Linked DNA regions of Homo sapiens: region 1 is linked to region 2. The links come from fine-mapping of genetic effects on gene expression. A gene starts in region 2. The other region holds a variant in brackets. All regions are shown on one strand. Distances are from middle to middle.

Region 1 (5,362 bases), 36 kb before region 2:
AAAATGCTTTATGGGTTCAAACATGTCAAATTTATGAACTCTTCGTTTTTTTGTGGAAACTGGCTGGCAGTCTCTATTTACAATATCTCTCCTCTATTATAAAAAACATTGCAGTGGAGCTATGTGAACATTTTTTCCCCTTTCCCTTAGAGAAAGCAAATTAAGTCAAAGGTGATACATATCCTTGGAGTTGGCTGAAAAAGAAATTGGGAGAAATATGAGAATAGCCTTGTGGAACTTGGTTTCCACAATTCTCAAATTTAACCATGAAATTAAAATTAGATACAGGGGATAGATTTTCCTGGTCATAAGCAAGTCAGGCAGTGAGCTCCAAAGAATTCACATACTCCTCCTTCTAATTCTTTTAAAATTCCAGCTTCTAAAGGACCTGAGAAATATGATCACTACTAAACTCACTCATGTATTAAATAATGATTAGGAAGAGCTAAGAGTTGACACAGAGGAAGGCCAGGAAACATGGTAAATGTGGGTAAGGGCATTAAGAAGTTTGCAGACTACACCATATCTCTAAAGCCTCATGATTTTGCTAAAGTATTGTAACTCAGGAGAGAAAGCAAGACACCCTCATGGGAATTCTTTTGAGTTTTTCATTCTTTTCCCCCTCCACTCAGTTCCATCCAGATGTGGCAGCCTCAGTAGCTAGTAGAAAAAAAATTTGGCCAGGGTCAGTGGCTCAGGCCTGTAATCTCAGCACTTTGGGAGGCCAAGGTGGGCGGATTGCTCAAGCTCACAAGTTTGAGACCAGCCTGGGCCACATGGCAAACCCTGTCTCTACAGAAAATACAAAAATTAGCCGGGCATGGTGGCACATATCTGTAGTCTCAGCTATTTGTAGGCTGAGGTGGGAGGATCACTTGAGCCTGGGAGTTTAAGGCTGCAGTAAGCCATGATTATGCCACTGCACTTCAGCCTGGGTGACAAAGGGAGACCCTGTCTCAAAAGGGGGGAAAAAAGGCCAGGCATGGTGGCTCACACCTGTAATCCCAGCACTATGGGAGGCTGAGGCGGGCGGATCACGAGGTCAGGAGATCAAGACCATCCTGGCTAACACGGTGAAACACCGTCTTTACTAAAAACATAAAAAATTAGCCAGACATTGTGGCACGCGCCCAGAGTCCCAACTTCTCAGGAGGCTGAGTCAGGAGAATCGCTCGAACCTGGGAGACAGAGGTTGCAATGAGCCAAGATCCTGCCACTGCACTCCAGCCTGGGCAACACAGTGAGACTCCATCTCAAAAAAAAAAAAAAAAAAAGGAAAAAGAAAAATTTTAACAATAATTGAGAAAGTAAACTAAATGGTCAAGCCAGAAATGTATAAAAATATGTGTATAATGTAATGTTTATTAAGCTTGCTTGAAAAACAGAATTCTTTTACTTTGAATTTCTCCATTTCAATGCATGGAAGGAATGGTCCACAGTAAAACAAAAGCAGTATTTCCAAGAATGTTAGTTGTCTCTAGCTCCGTATACATTTTCTACCGCCATATGTCTACCGCCATAACCAATGCAGAGTTGTTTAACATGAAGTTTGACCCAAACTGGACTAGGAAGGGGCAAACTGGAGTGAAACAAACTCAAAACAAGCAAACCAATACCAAGAGCCAGAAAAGTGTTCGTCTTGAAATTTATATACCATACTTACATAAAAGAAGTTAAACCAATTGATCATTATGTACATATATTAGTGAATATTAGTATTTTACATTTACATACATGTGCATATGTAATCAAGTAAAAATATAAATGTTAAATAATTTTTATCAGCGAAAAATACACAAAACATGACTGATACTTCAATTTGAGTGCTTGTTCGATATTCAGTGCTTAAAAATGTTTGGAAAAATAATACCAAAATATAACCTGGTGAAAGATATTTAAAAAGTGAAAGAGATAAGAAAATAGTAAGTGTTTGGTGTGATTTTAATAAGTAGGGGAAATGAGCAGAAATAAGATCTATATTTGGGGAGGAATTGCATAGCGTAGACCGGATGAAGAATCGGAAAGGAAGAACGTGGTTTTTCCCAAGGCCAATTTCGCTCAAAATGGAACAGAACCAGGGAATTTTCAGGACAAAGTAAATGAACTGAAGTTTCCATCATGAGTTCATTCTATTAGCAGATGCCCAATTGACTTCCTCCTTGAGTCTTTATTAGGAGGCAGGCCTCAGACATTCACCCTACAGTCAGATACAACTTCAGTTCCTTACTTGGCTTCTGTCAAGACGGTAAGAGTGCAAGGTGTCATATAATGACATTGCACAACTTTGTGGGAATCTATCTTTACTGAAGAATCATCGGACGGTATCAACTAACCATCTTTCCAAGCACAGGCTGGTTTGCAATTCTTGAACCTGGCGTTTCTTTTCTAAAGACTGAGTTCCGGAAAGGGTTGGGGCAACTCCCTGCAGGGCAGAGCTCCCGGCTTTGGTGCGTCCTTCCCAGCGCGCTCCATGGTCTGGGATGGGCGGTGGCGGCCCGGGCCGGCCTGCTACTTGAGGCAGGGACAGCAGAAGCAGCAGAGGG[T/C]CCGGCAGGGGTTCTTCTCCTCGTACTGCACGGCCTTCCGCACCTGCGCCTTGGCCTGGCCGGTGTAGTCGACCGTCTTTTGTACGTTGAGCTCGATGACGTTCAGGGTGTCGGCCTGCTTCTCCACCAGCACCGCCATCTGCAAGAAGAGCTCGTGTACGTCGCGGATGCGGCTCTCCAGGCGCAGCAGTTCGCGGTGGCGGCTCTCGATCTCGTTGAGGGCGGCCCGCGCGCCCTTCACGTCGGCCAGCAAGTTCTCGGAAAACACGTCCCACTTACCCTGCTCGAACATGTCCTCGATCTGGTCGCCCGAGACTTCCTTGCCCATGATCTCCAGCTGGCGCTGGATGCGGATCTTGCAGTTGTCGCGCTGCTTCATCTCGGCCTGGTTGTAGTCGTGCATGGCGCGCTGGAAGGTGAGGGTGAGCGCGTTGTACTGCGCCCGCGAAATGCGCGCCACTGCCGAGTGCGGGCCGTGCTGGGCCTCAGCCGCCTCGCTCAGCTCCTTCATGGCGCGCAGCTTGCAGTGGATGACCTCGCCCCGGGCCTTGATGGCCTTGGCGATGGAGTTGGTGTCGCGCTTGATGCTGCTGAGGCGCCGCATGGACGTGAGGAAGCGGGCGTTCTGCTTTCCCAGCCGCTTCACGTCGGCCACCAGCAGCTGGTTTTCATCCTGAATGTCCCGGATGTCTCGGTACAGGGACTCCAGGATGTGGTCCGTCTCGAACACGATGTCCTCGTGGGGCGAGTCAAACTCATCGTCCCCGTCTGGGAACTGCTGGTCATATTGCTTGGACAAGTCCAGAAGTTCTGCTAGCCGGTCTTTCATTTTGCCTGCAAGTAGAGATAATGAAGTTAAATTTCTCTATTGAGAGTCAAATATTTGCCTTCAAGGGATTGAAACTTAAACATTTTACTCAGCAGTCCCAATTTTGTATTCCTCGGTGTGGGCAATAAGTGCACTAAAGGAGCTAAATGTTCTGACATTTTGCTTACAAGGAAAGAAATAAGATGACTGAACAACATGAAACAGTTGTGTTTTAAGGCCTATAGGCACCTGCAGTTCAATATCATAGCCGCGCAGAACTCAATGAGCAATTTAAAATTTTATTTATTTATTTATTTATTTATATATATTTTATTATACTTTAAGTTCTAGGGTACATGTGCACAACGTGCAGGTTTGTTACATATGTATACCTGTGCCATGTTGGTGTGCTGCACCCATTAACTCATCATTTACATTAGGTATATCTCCTAATGCTATCCCTCCCCCCTCCCCCCACCCCACAACAGGCCCTGGTGTGTGAAAATTTTAGATTGCATTGGGAAACCATCTCTTTTCATTGCTTTATGTTTTCCAATCATTGCAAATTAAAACAGACACAGAAAAAAAAAAAAAGAAAAAAGAAGAAGAAAGACTTGCAAACTTAAGTATTTTTAATTGAGGATAATCTACAAGGCTTTGGGGCCAACATCTAAATGTTGCCTATTTTGTGTCTATTTCGGCACTGGGAAGCATCCCCTCCTGTACACACTAACAACTCTTAAAACAGTTACCATGCAAATCATGATTTAAATTTTTTTCTCTTGAAGATGTTGTAAAAGTAAAACATGCTTGAAGTAAAATGACAACAAAATACAGAAATCTAAGTGTAAAATTTAGAAGTTGAGGTTTCCTTACTCCTCTTCTCAATATCATTCCCTAATGATAAGCATCGTAAATAACACTGCTTTTTAAAATGCTTTTATGTGGAAAATTCCAATCATACGTGGCCTAGTAGCAATACTACAACACACTCCCATTCATTCATCATGTAGCAGCAATGTTTGCCCACTTTTAATAGCTTTTTGAAACAAGTTGGCAGCTCAAGCAGAATGTTCATGTTTTTACAAGGATGGTTCTGGTAATTCCTCTGCTTAGTAAGGCAAAGTAATAGTCTCTATGTTCATATTGCTTTTCAGTGAAGTGAAAAACTTTCATTTTTAGTAGCATGTATATATGCTAATATAGGGAATATCTTGTGTTTATACACAAGACTTCATGATGAGAAAGATTCTTTTTCTACTACACAATTTGCAGCAAAGAGGGGAAAAGTAGTAACACTTAATGGTTACGCAATCTATCAGGGTTCTTGGTCTCAAATTAAAAGCTTCTTTCAAGTTGAAGTAATTAATTTTATATCACCACTAATGGAATGCTGACAAGTTGGATTTGGTGGTAAATGGAAAATGGTGAAATATTAACCACGGCCTTTCATCTACCATGATCATTATTTACATAAATTAAGCAGAAGTTTTATTCTATGATGGTGATTTTTAATGTAACAATGTAAGCTGCTTAAAGTGCCATTTCTGATATCTGGTGGCTATAATCAATACCAGACCTTCTCACGGATGGGGAAGGTGATTCTCCTAGCAGTATGGTTGACAGGCAGAAAAAAGATCCACCCTGGACCAAAACTATGCCTTCACCTGGTCTGAATTTCTTGATATTCAACTGTTTCCTCACTTTGAACAAAATTGAAAGACAAACCACCAACTGGGGAGAAATTATAATATATGACAGACAAGAGGTTAAGATACTTAATATATATATTTCTAAGCTACCAAAAAATCTACTTACCCAAAGACAGTGAAGCAATTCAGAGAAGATGTAAATGACAGAGAACATAAACGTATGTTATATATGCCTGATATTTTCTAGGCATCTTTCATGTGATACCCTCTTTAGTCTTCATACAGATTCTATGAGTAGGTACTGCCATTATCAGAGTTGGTGTGAGCATAGGGAGATCAAGGAATTTACTCAAGGTCAT
Region 2 (5,381 bases):
ACAACAGTTTCCACGGTGTCTTCCTAGGGTCAATGTCACTCTCATCTAATCTAAGATTTTTAAAATTCCAAGTTTTGTTATTATTTTTTAAACACATACCTGACAATATCATTCACTTGTTCAAAGGCTTCAGTACTATTAAACCCTCATGGGGCCTTTGTGATCTGGCCCTTCCTGTCTCCGTAGGCCTCCCTCTGTGCCGTCACTAAACAGGCTGGAGTTTCCTGAACGTCCAGTGCTGTTTCACTTCTCTATGGGTGCTGTTCCTTCTGCTGGGTCACCTACAGCAGACAATTCCACTTGCCTGACAATTCATCCTCCTACGTGAAGGTTCATTATTCCATCAATAAACACTTTCTAACACTTATCATGAGACAAGCCTGGGCCAAGTTCAGGGAGTACAATGCTGAATGACAAACTCGACCCTTTCTTTCTCATAGAAAAAGTAACTTTAGGGCTCTCAAAGGAGGAATAAAGTTTGGAAATTAAGGTAAAGTTGTCTGAAATTTAGCATTGTTGCCTTTACCAGTTGGATATCTTAGCAAACTGGGGAAACTTGGAAACCTTGATACTTGGGCATCCAGTTCAAAAGCATCTCAGCAGATTTCAATTGCAACAGTAAACTGTGATACGGTAGATTTATTCATTTTGGCTCACACGGCTATAATGTGATAAAAAACATTGATTTGAACTACAAAAACAATGATCATAAACTCGCTTCAATATAGTGTTACCAATGTATAAACTATTAGGCAGGGCATGGTGGCTCACATCTGCAATCCCAGCACTTTGGGAGGCCAAGGCAAGCAGATCACCTGAGGTCAGCAGTTCGAGACCAGCCTGGCCAACAGGGCCGAACCTTGTCCCTACTAAAAATACAAAAATTAGCCGGGTGTTGTGGTGGGTGTCTGTAGTCCCAGCTACTTGGGACGCTGAAGCACAAGAATTGCTTAAACGCAGGAGGTGGAGGTTGCAGTGAGCCAAGATTGCACCACCACACTCCAGCCTGGGGCAACAGAGTGAGACTCTGTCTCAAAAAACAAAACAAAACAAAACAACCTATTAATTAGTCACACCATTTCCTAAAAGTCATGCTGTTAACTAAAGGTGACTGCAATTGTCCAGGGGTGATAATCAGCTGAATTTCGTTTTACATGGTTATTAAATAACATGAAACATGGTTCATTCAAGCACTTTAAAAACCATACCTTTCAAATTCATACATTTTTAAATCATGTATCAAATGAAGAATAGGCTGCCTACAAAGACAAGTAAATGACTAAACTCAAAAGTTTCCTTGCTCTTCCAGCCATGACCCAGTCCATTCCAAATCCCAGATCTTCAGAAACATCAGTCATATTGGGACAGAAACTTTTCTCTGGGTATAGATTTACCCTAGCACCTATCTCATTATATTGAATTTTCCAGCATATTTAAATAAACTATTAATTAGTCACACTATTTCTTAAAAGTCACACTATCAACTAATCGTGACCGCAATTATCTAGGGGTGATAATCTGCTGAGTCTACTCTTTAAATACACTGGGACCCAGCATATTGAGTTATATTGGCACAGAAACTTCACTCTGGGTATAGATTTACCCTAGTACCTTGCCGGCAGGATCCTATTATTCATGGTTGTACAAGCAAGGTTCAGGGAAGAGGCTGGCACAGAGAAGGTACCTGGTAACTGTTGTTTGAGGCTGAATTCAGCTCAACTCAGCTCCAGTAGAGATGGTGTCCCCTTCTCTACCGTGTTGAGATAGTGTGCAGTCCCTTCCTAAGGGCTGTTACCCACCGCAATAGGACTTGTCAGCTTCAACTTTTAAATTTCTCTGCTCCCGCTGGGACCCACCCGCTTCAAAAATCATCATGTGGTTTTAGCACCAATTTAGTAAACACAAACTGTCTGAAATATTTTGATTTTAGAGAGTTACTTACAATCACCACATTAAATGATACCTTTCTCCCATGCAGTGAAAATGACAGCAAAATGGTCATTGAATAATGAAATTAATTTTCTCTTGGGCATCTGTGGCAAAGCACATGATTTCAATGGTTATCTTAGATCAGCCCAGTGACCTTTACTGGCATGTTGTAACATCAGGCGCCTTAGGAAACTGAAAACTCAATCGTCACTTCCCATACCACTGCCCCAGGTTGGCAGGGCAGGCATTTCACATCTAGAGTCTCATTTTAAAGCAAGCCTCGCTTTTCAAAAGTTCATTAACAAAGTCTCACAATTAAGAGAGCAGCCCTGTGACTCATTTTTGGATACCTGTAAATAACAGCTCCTCCCTCTGCTGAGAAACGGCTGAAACAAGTGCGTGAGAACCACAGGAAGTAATACAGATCTCAGCTGGTGTCAGCGGAGTCTAGAAAAAGGCAGAATTCCCTCTCAGGACGGCGTGGCTCTCGCAGGCATTGCCACTACTTCTCTCCATGTTTCTAAAACAAAGTCTTACGTGGGCTTCGAAGGGACTCCTCGAAGGCTCTATCAATTTCTCCGTCTTTCCTGGCTACTGAGTGACACCGCCAAGTTCAAGTCAAGAAGTACCCATTCTGGTGTTTTTGACACAGTCACCCTACTAGGAAGTGAAGAGGTGATAATAAAAAAACACTCCAGCCTTTCGATTTAAAATAAAAGTAGTCTTGGGTGGACACTTTATAAAGGCAGCCTACCAACAGGTATCCCTAAAATAATTCTTACGAAGCACTAAATCCTAAGTCCCTCAGCCTCTGAAATTAAAAGTAATTTTAAAAAATCATTCTGCTTTATATGAGAAACCCAATGCTGTGTTTCCGAAGGTGCCCAGAGGCGGCGTGAGGACCTGCGCCAGATCCAAAATCCCACCTAAGGCACAGCCGCGGGTCCCGAGCCTAGACAGTGCCCCCGCCCCGACCCGCCCTCCCCGATCTCTCCGCGCACGGGGAAAATAGTCAGGAAGAGAAATGGGGGCTCAGGAAGAGAAAAACAAACCTGGACTGGGAGCGAGAGTGCGAACCGAGAAGCCCCTCTCCCGGCAGGGCGCGCGTCCCCTGTGGGCGCAGCGATGGAGAAGGAAACCTGTTGCGCGACTCCCGGCGGCTCCGCTCCCGGCGCCTCCTGCGGCCGAGGCTGAGTTCCTCCACGGCCGCCCGAGCTCCGCGCCGCCGCGGCCGCATCTGGGCGCCGCCGGCTCAGCCCCCGCCGCTTAGGAAGCGACCACAGCTGGGGACCAGGCCCCGCCCCGGGATGACAGCGCTGGGGCGCGGCGGCAGCCGGCTCACAGAGCGCGGGTTCCCGCCCCACCCAGAGTCCATGCGCTCGGGACCGCCCGGAGCCGGGGACGCGCTCCAGCCCCTCCCGCAAGCCCAGGGGCGTTCCCGCGGGCTGCGCGGACCGGCGCGGGGAGTGGGATGTTTGCCGCCCAAGACACTTCCTCCGCTCGTCCTCTGGTCCCCAGGGCAGGGAGCGCGCTGGACTTCCCCCGGGAATCCCCGCTGCGCTGGTGACATTTGCAGTCCGGTGCGTTGCCGCGGCGAGGACGCTGGAAGCCGTCTCTGAGCGTGGGTGTGGCTGCGGAAGCTGCGGCAGGTCCTGCATCCCTGGGACCCTCGAGGACGCGGGCGAGGAGCCTGCGGTCACACGGAGGCCGAGCACCGCCTTCCCAGAACCCTGCCGACCAACCTCTCTCCAGTCGGCCTCAACACCCGCCGGGCTCATCATTCTCTGGATATCAACTGAGCGTCCCCTTGTGTGCCCACCGCGCTCAAAAATACTGCCAAGACCCACCCTCCAGGTCCCGGCACTTTAACGGGGAGGGATAAATAGAAAGTGTGGATTGTGCCAGGTGGTGGTAAAGCACCTTGAAAAACAAGGCTGAGGCTGAAAAGTAAGGAAGTGATACTCAAAAAAGGAAAAATCGGGCCGGGCGCGGTGGCTCACGCGCGTATTCCTAACACTTTGGGAGGCCGAAGGGGGAGGATCTCTTGAGCCCAGGAGTTTGAGACCAGCCTGAGCGATGTGGTGAAAGCCTATCTCTACAAAAAATAAAAAAATTAACTGGGCGTGGTGGCGCACGCTGTGATCCCAGCTGCTCGGGAGGCTAAGGTGGGAGGATCACTTGAGGCTGAGAGGTCAAGGATGCAGTGAGCCGAGATCGCGCCACTGTACTCCAGCCTGGGCGACAGAATGAGACGCTGTCTCAATTGAATGAGAAGAAAAAAAATAAAACTAAAGAACGAATCCTGCCTTGATGGCAGAATGTTTAGACACAGGAACCACCTGAAAGCTCCCAGTTGCCAAAGATGGAACCATTTGAGCAACGAAGTAAACTAAACAAGGTAGTATTGGATTACAAGCCAAAGTAAAAAAATCCATGAGTCTACACTGATATAAATAAATAATTGAATAAATAAATAAAAGGCGGAGAGGAGACAAATCTCCTATACAGAATAATTCCAAATAATTTATGTAGATCATGTACCCTAGGCTGTGCACAGTGACTTCCTCCAAAATAGTACAATGTGGAAAGGGAAAAACAGTAGGTTTACAATGGAGAAAGCCGACAGACACTACCCCAGCCAGATGTTCTAAGCCAACGTCAACAATCGTGACTCATTGATGGCATGTAGTCAATATGATGTGATGAATGTGGCATATTACATGTGTGGTCTCCCTCCTGGAAAACCATAACCTCAGTCTCATAATGAGAAAAATATCAAACAAATTCCAGTAGTGGAACATCCTACAAAATACCTGACCAATATTCCTCAAAGTTGTCAGGTTATCAAAAGTAAGGAAAGTACAGTCCAGACGTGGCTCACGCCTGTAATCCGTACACTTTGAGAGGCTGAAGCGAGAGGATTGCTTGAGGCCAGGAGTTCGAGGCCTGATCTGGCCGACATAGCCAGATGCTGTCTCTACAAAAAATAAAATAAAATAAGGAAAGTCTGAAAAACTGCCGCAGCCTAGAAGAAACTCAGGAGACGTGAAAACTAAATGTAATGTGGTATCCTGGATGGGATCCTGGGACAGAAAAAGGACTTGGGGAAAAACTAAGGAAATCTAAATAAAGCATGGACTTTCATTAGTAATAAGAATCAAGGTTGATTAATTAGTTGTGAGGAATGTAATGTAAGATGGTAATCATAGGGAAATCTGAAATGGAATTTATGGAAATTCTGTACTACCTTTGCAGTTGTTCTGTAAATCTAAAACGGTTCTAAAAAATACAGTTTATTTTAAAAGAAAGTAAAATAAGAGGGATGAGGTATGTTATATTTTTAAAAATGGGTATATTGCAAAGCCATCTAAGATAAGAGAATCATTGAGGGAGGAAACAATGCAGCTATTGGGATTAAGATCATTTCAAGCCTAGGAATCAGTGGATGTAAA

Evidence for each region. PIP is the estimated chance that this variant, and not a neighbour inherited with it, causes the effect. A credible set is the group of variants that fine-mapping cannot tell apart.
Region 1: its variant is the best candidate, but not a certain one, in a credible set for the expression of STX11 in whole blood (TOPMed, PIP 0.83).

What each region holds. Positions count from the first base shown.
Region 1 is chr6:144,184,638-144,189,999 of GRCh38, reverse strand. It overlaps STX11 (syntaxin 11), which reads right to left. Exons shown (of 2, transcript NM_003764.4): 2 at 1-3,377. The coding sequence starts at 3,372. The coding sequence ends at 2,509. Among named protein-coding and RNA genes, the nearest start is that of TRL-TAA1-1, 29 kb to the left of the region's middle. RefSeq lists an enhancer at 3,027-3,527. The variant T/C (reference allele first, on the strand shown) is at 2,544.
Region 2 is chr6:144,148,304-144,153,684 of GRCh38, reverse strand. It overlaps STX11 (syntaxin 11), which reads right to left and starts at 3,168. Exons shown (of 2, transcript NM_003764.4): 1 at 2,982-3,168. RefSeq lists a silencer at 3,042-3,481.